2 separate regions of the Homo sapiens genome follow, and region 1 is linked to region 2. Evidence: fine-mapped expression QTL. A gene starts in region 2. The other region holds a variant in brackets. All regions are shown on one strand. Distances are from middle to middle. Region 1 overlaps TTC7B (tetratricopeptide repeat domain 7B). Region 2 holds the start of TTC7B (tetratricopeptide repeat domain 7B).

Region 1 (5,000 bases), 83 kb before region 2:
TGGCCTCCCAAAGTGCTGGGATTACAGGCGTGAGCCCCTGCGCCCGGCCTGCTGCTACTCTCTTTAAACTCACAAGTCAAAGCATTTCTCAGAGGAAAGCCTACTTGTGGCTCACATAAAAACCAATGTTCTCCAAACATGCCGTCCACATTTGCTGAAAGTCAGCAGCTCTTCAAAAGACCCAGTTGTTTGCCAAACCCCAAACATCCTAGAGGTCTTGAAACCTTAGTCTCCAAACAGAGTGGAAGTAATTATTAGTTCCCTAACCCACAAGCTTTGGGGAAAAGAAAGGTAGAAGGTACATGATAAACGAGACATCGAGGAATGAAACCCAGGTGGGCAACCCTTGCATGTGAACCGGATCCCAGCATCTTATAGAAATTGCCCAGCTCCGTCCTGACTTAGCCCTCAGCTCTGCACCCCTGACTCTCCGGGAGTTCCTCCTCTCTGGGAACCTCATTTCCACCCACTACAGGCTCCTCCTCCACTCATCCGTCAAGTGCCAGAGATGCACGCGGCACCATCGGAGCCACACTCCTTTCTCTCTTAGGTCTCTTGAGATGACCGCATCCATCCCTAAGAGCTTCAAAATCATCAGTATGCTGCCAACGCCCAAGTTTATAGCTGTAGTCAAGACTTTCTCTGTGAATTTCCAACTCACATATCCAACTGCTGCACTTGGAGGTCCAACACGGAAACTTTTAAAAATCATCCTTCATTTGCTTTTCAGCATAGTTTTAATTTTGACATGCCATGATTATTTTAAAGTAAAAAATTCAGTACAGCACAAAAAAGAAAATAAAAAAATCACCTCACAATTCCATCACACAAAAATAACCACAGTTAACATTTATTGAACGACAATCCAGATATCTTTGTGGACACATGTATCAAGCAGAGAAAGATAAAAATCATTTTACAAAAAAATGAGATCATGTTATATATGCTAGTTTTAAATTTAAATCATTATATTTAATTTAGTTAAATTTAACAGAAGGAACTAAAGTGTAACCAAAGTTACACTTTAGAAAGTTTGTCCCTCCTAATTATTTCTCAACTATGTCTGTGACTATCCATTTCTACTACCATTACATCATCCGAGCTGCCAGGACTTCCTGTTAGATTTCTACAACAGCCTCCTGAATGGAGTCTCCACGTCCTCTCTTGCTTCCCTATTTCCCTCACTCTCTATAAGCAGCCTGAATAATTTCTGTCACCCAAGCTGGAGGGCAGTGGCATGACCATGGCTCCCTGCAGCCTCAACCTCGCAGGCTCAAACGATCCTCCCACCTCAGCCTCCCAAGTAGCTGGGACTACAGGTGTGTGCCACCATACTCGGCTAATTCTTGTATTTTTTGTAGAGATGAGGTTTCACCATGCTGCCCAGGCTGGTCTTGAACTCCTGAGCTCAAGAAATCCAACTGCCTCGGCCTGCCAAAGTGCTGAGATTACAGGCATGAGCCACTGCGCCTGGCTCCTGAAAAATTTTTCATAATCCAGTCTGGATCATGAGCCACTGCGCCCGGCTCCTGAATAATTTTTCATAATCCAGTCTGGATCATGAGCCACTGCGCCCAGCTCCTGAATAATTTTTCATAATCCAATCTGGATTATGTTGCTCTTAAGCTCCTTTTCCTCTTTCTCATCTCTCAGATATCAGCTTGCTTCTGCTTCTTGCTTCCTCCGAAGGGCCTTTTCTAACAATCGGCATTAAGGAAGTCTGCCCTATTCGCCTGCCCACAGCATCCTTTCCTATTCCTTCATTACATTTGCCATTGTTATTTCTTCACTTGATTTCTGGCTGTCTCTCTCCACTGTGCTACAAATTCCACAAAGTCAGAGGCCACGCCTATTTTACTTACCCAGTGTCTAGTGCAGGATAAGCATTCAATATACATAGTAAATGAATAAACTTTCAAGG[C/T]CAATCATAAATGCAGAGAAAAGGCAACAGGAAAGTAACCCACTGTGTCTTAGGCACCATGTGGGTACATCGCTATCTCATGTATTCCTCCACAAAAACCCACCGAGATACACACCATTGTCCTCTCTTTACCAGAGGGGAAGCGGAGACTGCTCCACCAAGTGAGGTGCCCGAATCATGTGGCTTGAGAGCGGTGGAGCTGGTGCAGAAACCCAGATCCCCCTGACTCCACAGCCCGGCTCCTTCTCCTTCATCTGTGTCTGCTTGCAGAGCAAAGTCCAAAACACAAGGGCAGCCAGGAGGTGGCTTAAGGTTATAAATGGGAGAATGGGAAAGACGCAAGAGAAGCCTTGGAGGGACTAGCATAGCTCAGGGCTTACCCTGAAGTCTAAGCATCTTGAACTTAATCCCTTCCTCACAAAGAGCCTCCAACACATGGGCCTGGGCAGAAGCATTGTTTGGCAGTGCTGAAGCCACCACTTGTTCTGTGGATAAACACTTCCAGCGAGGAGACTGCCAACAAGCGTCCTTAACAAGCGCAGCTGGCTCTGGCAGAAGCAAGTACCCAATGACTGAGGAAGCACGGGGAAGGGGCTGAAGATTTTAGTCAAAAGACCGAGGCGCGAGGTCTGGTTCTGACACTGCTCACCCACCATTCGCGGACTTAGGACAACACCTCTGACCTCACAGACCTTCACTGCCCTCATCTATACAATGGGGATAATAATACCTACCTCACAAGGTTGGTTTGAATTGCAAATGAGAAACTTCACTTCATGAGCAAATACCATACATTATTATACAAATATTATAATCCTTAATGGAGTTATATTAACTGCATGAACAAATATTATACATTATTGTACAAATAGTATAATCCTTAATGGAGCTATATTAAAGAGTTACCTTTAAGTAGAAACAAAATAAAAATCTTTATTTCTTAACATCGTTTTATAAATTATGGCAATAAGGCATGAGACATATAAGATGGAAAATATTCGAAAGGAGGAAACAGGCCAGGCGTGGTGGCTCATGCTTGTAATCACAGCATTATGGGAGGCTGAGGTGGGTGGATTCCTCGAGCTCAGGAGTTCAAGACCAGCCTGGCCAACATGGCAAAACCCCGTCTCTACTAAAAATACAAAAACTTAGCCAGGTGTGGTGGCACGTGCCTGTAGACCCAGCTACTCAGTAGGCTGAGGCATGAGAATTGCTTGAACCTGGGAGGCGGAGAATGCAGTGAGCCAAGATTGCGCCACTGCACACCAGCCTGAGTGACAGAGTGAGACTCTGTCTCCCAAAAAAAAAAAAAAAGAAAGGAGGAAACAACGACAAAAATCATTCCACCTCATAGATCTATAGGCTGCAATGAGCTATGATCACTATCATGCTTTGAAAAGCATCAACTCTGTTTCTATAGAAGACTTCAGTATTATGGACAATAAACACCATCCTTGCCATCCTCGACACTGCTATCCTTGTCAGCCTTCAAGATGCTGCTCAGGCATCATCTCTTCCAGGAGACATCCCTGAACTCCCACACTGGCCCAAGGCCTTTTCTGGAGCTCTCAGAGTTCTCTGAGAATTCCCACCACAGCACTCCTCCTGGCTAAGGACCTGTGTCCTCATGAGCTTCTTTTTAAATTTTTATTTATTTTATTATTTATTTATTTATTTATTTTGGAGACGGAGTTTCTGTCGCCCAGGCTAGAGTACAGTGGCACGATCTCGGCTCACTGCAACCTCTGCCTCCCAGGTTCAAGTGATTCTCCTGCCTCAGCCTCCTGAGTAGCTGGGATTACAGGCATGCGCCACCACGCCCAGCTAATTTTTAAATTTTTAGTATAGACAAGATTTCACCATGTTGGCCAGGCTAGTCTTGAACTCCTGACCTCAGGTGATCCACCTGCCTCGGCCTCCCAAAGTGCTAGGATTACAGGTGTGAACCACTTAAGGGCAGGCTCTGTGACATACCCATTCTAGTGCCCCTGCAGTCAAACAGTATCCAGAACATGGAAGGCACTCAATACATGATTGTGCAAGTGAATTAAAACATCACAGGCACATTTATATGTTAAAATATAATTTCAAAAATGATCTAGGCCAGGCACGGTGGCTCACGCCTGTAATCCCAACACTTTGAGAGGCCAAGAAAGGTGGAATGCTTGAGACCAGGAGTTTGAGACCAGTCTGGGCAACATGGTGAGACCCTGGTCTCTACGAAAATGTTAAAAATTAGCCAGGTGTGGTGGTGTGTACCTGTAGTCCAAACTACTGGGGATGCTGAGGCGGAAGGATTGCTTAAGTCCAAGAGCTTGAGGTTGCAGTGAGCTATGATCACACCACTGCACTCCAGCCTGGGTGACAGAGTGAGACCTTGTCTCAAAAAAAAAAAAAAGATCCTATTCATAAAGCAATAAAAATAGAAAAGATCTGAGAATAAAACCACCTACTGGCCAGGTGCAGTGGCTCACGCCTGTAATCTCAGCACTTTGGAAGGCCAAGGTGGGTGGATCGCTTGAGGTCAGGAGTTCGAGACCAGCCTGGGCAACACAGCGAAACCTCATCACTTTTTTTAAATATTTTTTTTTTTTAAAAAACCTACTAAAGTCTATAGAACAAAAAAATCTTGACAAAATAGGAAGAGGGTCATAGATGACAGGAGACTAAATATAATTCTCCAAATTAATGTATGGAATTAAAAATTCAACCAAATCCCAAAAGGATTTTTCTTGAACTCAACAAAATTATTCTAAAATTTACCTGAAAGTATTAGAATGAGATAAGAACAAAGGATAACCTGAAAAATAAAAGTAATGAGTAGTTACTAATCATTTAAATGTTAAAACCTATCATAAAGAAGTGCCTATTAAACAGTGTCATGTTGGTACAACACAATTAAAAAGCCAGAATTTTATTGAATGACTAAAAATATATGACAGAAAATATGAAAAGGAAAGATCATCTTAAAGTAGCACTGAAATTTGGAAATTTGGGAAATTTTAATTGAGAAAAATTAATTTAGAGCTATATATATATATATATACCACAATGAACCCCAACTACATTTGGAAATTAA
Region 2 (5,470 bases):
CACTATCTGAAGCTGTGCTGTTTATTTATTTCCATATTTGCTTATCACCTGCCTCCTGAGAGCAGGGTGAGGGCATAAGGGCAGGGGCTTGGTCAGTGCTGTTCACCACTGTTCTGTGACTGGCACAGGTGGGCACGCAAATATTGGGTGAATGAATAAGCAAAGACAGCAGGAAACAAGTGGATTCAGAAGAAAAAAGACCAGGAGGCTCACAAATAAACCCATTTAATCCTAAAATCAACCTGCACAGAAGGTGTCATTATGCCTACACCGCTGGGAAGCCACAAAGTAGACCCAGGACTGTGCAACTCCGAGAGGAAAAGAGAAAATGCTGCAGGTAAGCGGAGAAGCAGGTGAGCCCGACACGGAGGGCAAAGGCAAGCTGCCTCTGGGGCCCAGGGCACTGAACACCATCTCCTCAAAGGCTGACATAACTGAGAAGGGTCCACATTTTCCACCAAGTGGAGCCCGTGTAGGGTCGGTGCTATCTCCATGCCCCTGACACACCATGGCACCTGCGTTCACCCAGAAGGTACCTGCCCACAGCATGCATCCATCATTGAGAGTGCGCAAAACCAAGTTCTAATTTCCAGGCACTAATACCATAGGACACAAACATAAACCACCCTCCAGGAGGACACCTGACATCCCTCTCCTTTCTGGGTAGTCTGAAGTGAGAAGGTTGAAAATAGTGCAGATGTCCTTTCTTAGAGCAGCCCCGCCATCCATTCATTCACTCTTTCATTCATTTGTTCAGCCAACATGTGCTCACTGGGCCTGGGGAAGCCCAGGATGAAATGAGACAAACCCTCTGCCCTCTGGCCACGGTGTGCTGGTGCCTGCGCTTTAGGCGGGTACTAAAAGACAAGCAAATATTAAAGATACTCGCTTCCAAAACAAATAAGGCCACGTGGAGCTGTGCACTGGAATGGGATTCTGGATGCAATTTTATTTGATTGGGTACAAGAACCAATCCAGTTAAAGGGGTCATGAACCAACTCCAGGCACCAGGCTCCTACTCAGAGGCTGCCTCAGACCCCCTTCTGGCCCAGGCACCAACCCCTCACCCACCCAACTCCATCTCCCGACATTCTTCAACCACATTCCCATCTCGCTCCACAATATTCTCCCTCCAGGTCCCCCTGACTCTATTTCTCCTCTATTCCCAACCCTGACCTCTCTAGGTCGGCAGCCTTGATGCTACTTCTCCGAACGCCAGGACGCACATCCCAGCCTGCTTTCTACCACCACCCCACACACCTCGAGTCTGCGCTTCCACCCAGAACCCCTTAAACACCATATGTTTACAAACCAGATTCCCCAGGGGTCTATGTACAACACCCCATTCTCAAGACCCCATAAACACATCCTGATTCCCTGAGCACACCATACACACACTGTGGACTTCACCCATGTCCTGAGGGACCCCCTCACCCCATCACCTCCAACTTCTTGGAAGCCCCAGGCCGGCCCCTGACCTCCTGTGGTCCCAGTGGAGCAGCGGACTCGCTGAGACCCCCGGACACCCCAGACTCCGCAGAAGCCCGCCCTGCACGCTTGAACCCCAGGCGCCGGGACAGCCCCTGGCGCCCCCCCGGGCCCCCACACCGCGTGACTCCGGGGCACCCGGGCTCCCCCAGGCCCCGGTCCCGCGCACATCCCCTGGGCCGCAGCTCCCTCGCGGCCCGGCCGCGCCCCTGCCCGCGCCCCGCGCCCGGCCGCGCCTCGGGGGCCCGTTCCCGCGGAGGCCGCGGCGCCCCCCGCAGCCCAGGCCGGCGCGCCCGGAGCGTACCGTTGGCGATGAGCTTGGCCGACAGCTGCTTGACGAGCTCAGGGATCCGCTCCCACTGGCACTCGGAGCGGCAGCGCTCGATCTCCGTCTCCAGCCGCGAGCCTGCCTTCTTGGTCGCCATCGCGGCCTGGCCGGGCCCGGCCGCCCGCCCCGCAGGCCCCACCGCCGCCGCCGCGGCGCCCCCTCGCCGCCTCCCGCCGCCGCCGCGGGCTCGGGCTCCGGCTCCCGGCTCCGCGGCGTAACGGGAGCGCCGGCTGGGGAAGGGGCGGGGAGGCGGGCGGCGGCGGCGGGCGCGGCGGGGCCCCGGGCGCCGCGAGGAGCGGCCCCTGCCGGCCAGGGCCGGAGCCGCAGCACTGACCGGGGCCGGAGCCAGGGCTGGGGCAGGGGCGGGGGCTAGGGCGGGAGACAGGGGCCCGAGGGAGGAAAGGCGGGGTGGGCATGGAGGACAGGGAGAGGGACTGGGGGTGTCTGGGGCGGGGTGAAGACCGAGGGGAAGTGGGGATGGGGGTGGGGGAGCGGGGTAGGAGAGAGATCTGACCAAGGGCGGGTGAGGGGTCTGGTGGGGTAGGGGTCTGGGCAGGATGAAGGGGAGGGAGAGGATCGGGAGGGAGCTAGCGACAGCCTGGGAGCGGGTTGGATCCCCAGGAGTAGGGCCAAGAAAGGGCAGTGACCCTGGGGAAGGTCACCGCCCGGTGGGACCAGTGAGCCAGGTGTGAGGGGTGGGGGGAGGCCTGCCCGAGTTTGTCCTGCCATCTCAGGTGGCCAGCGGTTCCCTGGGGCCCGGTTGGCCTGTGCCCCTTAGCAGATGCCCCTCTGCCCCGCAGCCTTAGCCCCTACCCAGCCAGAGGTGGACGGAGACTCCTCCATCCCAGGCAAGGCACAGCACCTGCCAGGGGTGCCCTAGATGGCTGAGCGGAGCCAGGCAGGGGCTGCCACTCTCACACGCCAGCTCTCGGACCCCCTGAGGGGAAGGCACAGTCACTGGTGGGGCCTCCTGTCTTGGCCACCTAGACTGAGACCTAGGGAGGTGTCCCTCTGTGTTCTCTCAGTGAATCAACTGTCTAGTGATCACCTACTATGTGCTGGGCGCTGCTTTAGGTGCCAGAGATAGAATTGTGAGCTAAAAAAACAAAATTCCTGGCTTGAGAGAGCTTACATTCCAGTTTGGGGGAAAAATAAGCAAAATAAAATAGTAAACTAGACTGTAAAAATGGCTATTTGAAGAAACAGGGAAGGGTTCAGTGAGGAACATAAAGAGTTGGGACAGGCGGGTGGCTCATGCCTGTAATCCCAGCTACTCAGGAGGCTGAGGCAGGATGATTGCTTGAGCCCAGAAGGTGGAGGCTGCAGTGAGCAGTGAACGCACTTCAGCCTGAGCAAGTGTTGCCATTTAAAATGGAGCAGTCAGGGATGGCCTCACGGAGGTGGCATTAGACTTGAAGAAACTAAGGGGGAGCCATGAGGATATCTCTGGGGGAGGAGTATCCCAGGCAGAGAACACCACAAGTGCGAAGGCTCTGGGGTTAGAGCACACTGGGTGGGATGGAGAAATGGCAGAGGCCAGAGGGGCTGGGTGGAGCGAAGGAGAGGGGCCGAGGCAGGAGATGAACTCTGAGAGGTTGGGGGGAGTTCTGTGTAGTGCCTGGTGGGCCATTATAAGACCTTGGCTTTTGGCTGGGCACGGTGGCTCACGCCTGTAATCCCAGCACTTTGGGAGGCCGAGGTGGGCGGATCACGAGGTCAGAAGATCGAGACCGTCCTAGCTAACATGGTGAAACCCGTCTCTACTAAAAATATTTTTAAAAATTAGCCGGGCGTGGTGGCAGGCGCCTGTAGTCCCAGCTGCTGGGGAGGCTGAGGCAGGAGAATGGTGTGAACCCGGGAGGCGGAGTTTGCAGTGAGCTGAGATGGCAGCACTGCACTCCAGCCTGGGCAACAGAGAGAGACTCCGTCTCAAAAAAAAAAAAAAAAACTTTGACTTTTACTCTGGTGACATGGAGCAGCCCTGCAGGGCTTTTCACGGAAGAGTGGCATGATCAGACCTACACTTTGGACTATCACTGTGACTGCAGTGTTGAGAATACTGCCAGGGAAATAGCTGTGGTGGTGGCAGTGTTGGATTCTGGGTCCTGCATTTGAGAGTGAAGCGGTCAGTCTGGAAGGTTCCGTAGCCCGCCCGCAGTCACAAGGAGGCACTGAGGGGTCGTCGTCATTCCTTCTGGGTGCCCTTACTCCAACTTTCCAAGAGCAGTCACACGCAGGTTCTTATCCCCACCACAACTCCCCCACCACCGGAGTTGATGAAGAACACACACTGTGGACCTCAGTTTACCAATGAGGAGGCTGAATCACAGACATTTAAGAGAGGTGAGGAGGAAAGATAAGGAGATGTGTTCTGATGTGACCAGTATCACTTTCAGGTGCCTCAGGGACTGCCAAGGTGATGGAAGTTGAGCTGACAGGCCCTGGACACTGTGAACAGCCCAGGGAAAGGGGAACTAGAACGTTAGAGTTTCAACAGGGGACCCTTTAGTGCCCTGGCCCTTAGCTCCCACCAAGAGGGAGCAGGAAGGGAAGGAGAAGAAATCTCCACAGGAGATGTTTCCTCTCTCCTGACACCCTCCTGTTCTCCCAACTCCAGTCTGCCTCTCCAGATTTGCTGGGAATGTTCTCCATCTGGACCAGGAGACAGATTCCTGTGCCTTCTTTCAGACACGGGCCAAAGGTTACTGGGCAGCCTTGCTCAACATCTGACAGACCTTGTGTGACAGCACTTGCCATCTCCCTCTGGGAAGGGGCAGGGTCTTAATCATGACTAACGCATACACTGCCTCAGTTGCCACACTGGAAGGTAAATGATGAGGGCCACCTGTCTGCCTCCCTACCTGATAAGGTGGCTTCATGAGGACGGATGCTGCCTGGGCCATGGCATTTAACATCCCCAGGCCTCCATTTCTTGGCTGTGATACCTCCCCCTGGAGCTCGTTGAGGAGGAAATGAGGAAATACAGGTAGGGCACAGAGAACAGTGCCAGCATGCCAGGCTCTGTGGCTCACGCCTGTAATCCCAGCAGTTTGGGTGGATCACGAGGTCAGAAGATCGAGACCTTTCTGGCTAACATGGTGAAACCCTGTCTCTACTAAAAATACAAAAAAATTAGCCGGGCATGGTGGTGGGCACCTGTAGTCCCAGCTACTCGGGAGGCTGAGGCAGGAGAATCGCTTGAACCCATGAGGTAGAGGTTGCATCTCCATCATGCCACTGCACTCCAGCCTGGGTGACAGAGCAAGACTCCATCTCAAAAAAAAAAACAGTGCCAGTGCACCAATAGAGTGCCATGTCGGCTGTCATTCTGTGTCTCTCTGCCCCTTGCAAGCCGCATAGGGCCTGGAACATTGTGGGAGCTTAAATGAACGAGGCTGGAGTCCCCAAGGTCTACAGCCACCTGCGAGTGCGTTTCCTTAGGATGAAACATCCCAATGATGAATCCATGTCACTACGTTCCAGGCTTCCACCGTCACGGCAGGCCACCTACAGGGGCCCAACACCAGAATATTCTTCAGACCATGTGCTTGGGCGCAGAGGTTGCTGGGTATAGGGGTTGGGAGCAGAGGCTGACAAACATTGTCAGCCTGAAGCAGGAGAGAGAAGGAACCCTCTGGGCTTCACCGTGGGAGC

Evidence for each region. PIP is the estimated chance that this variant, and not a neighbour inherited with it, causes the effect.
Region 1: its variant is the best candidate, but not a certain one, in a credible set for the expression of TTC7B in whole blood (INTERVAL, PIP 0.61).

What each region holds. Positions count from the first base shown.
Region 1 is chr14:90,731,202-90,736,201 of GRCh38, forward strand. All of the region lies in intron 4 of TTC7B (tetratricopeptide repeat domain 7B), which reads right to left. Among named protein-coding and RNA genes, the nearest start is that of TTC7B-AS2, 36 kb to the left of the region's middle. The variant C/T (reference allele first, on the strand shown) is at 1,922.
Region 2 is chr14:90,814,383-90,819,852 of GRCh38, forward strand. TTC7B (tetratricopeptide repeat domain 7B) reads right to left here and starts at 2,048. Exons shown (of 20, transcript NM_001010854.2): 1 at 1,793-2,048. The coding sequence starts at 1,913. RefSeq lists a silencer at 2,042-2,221.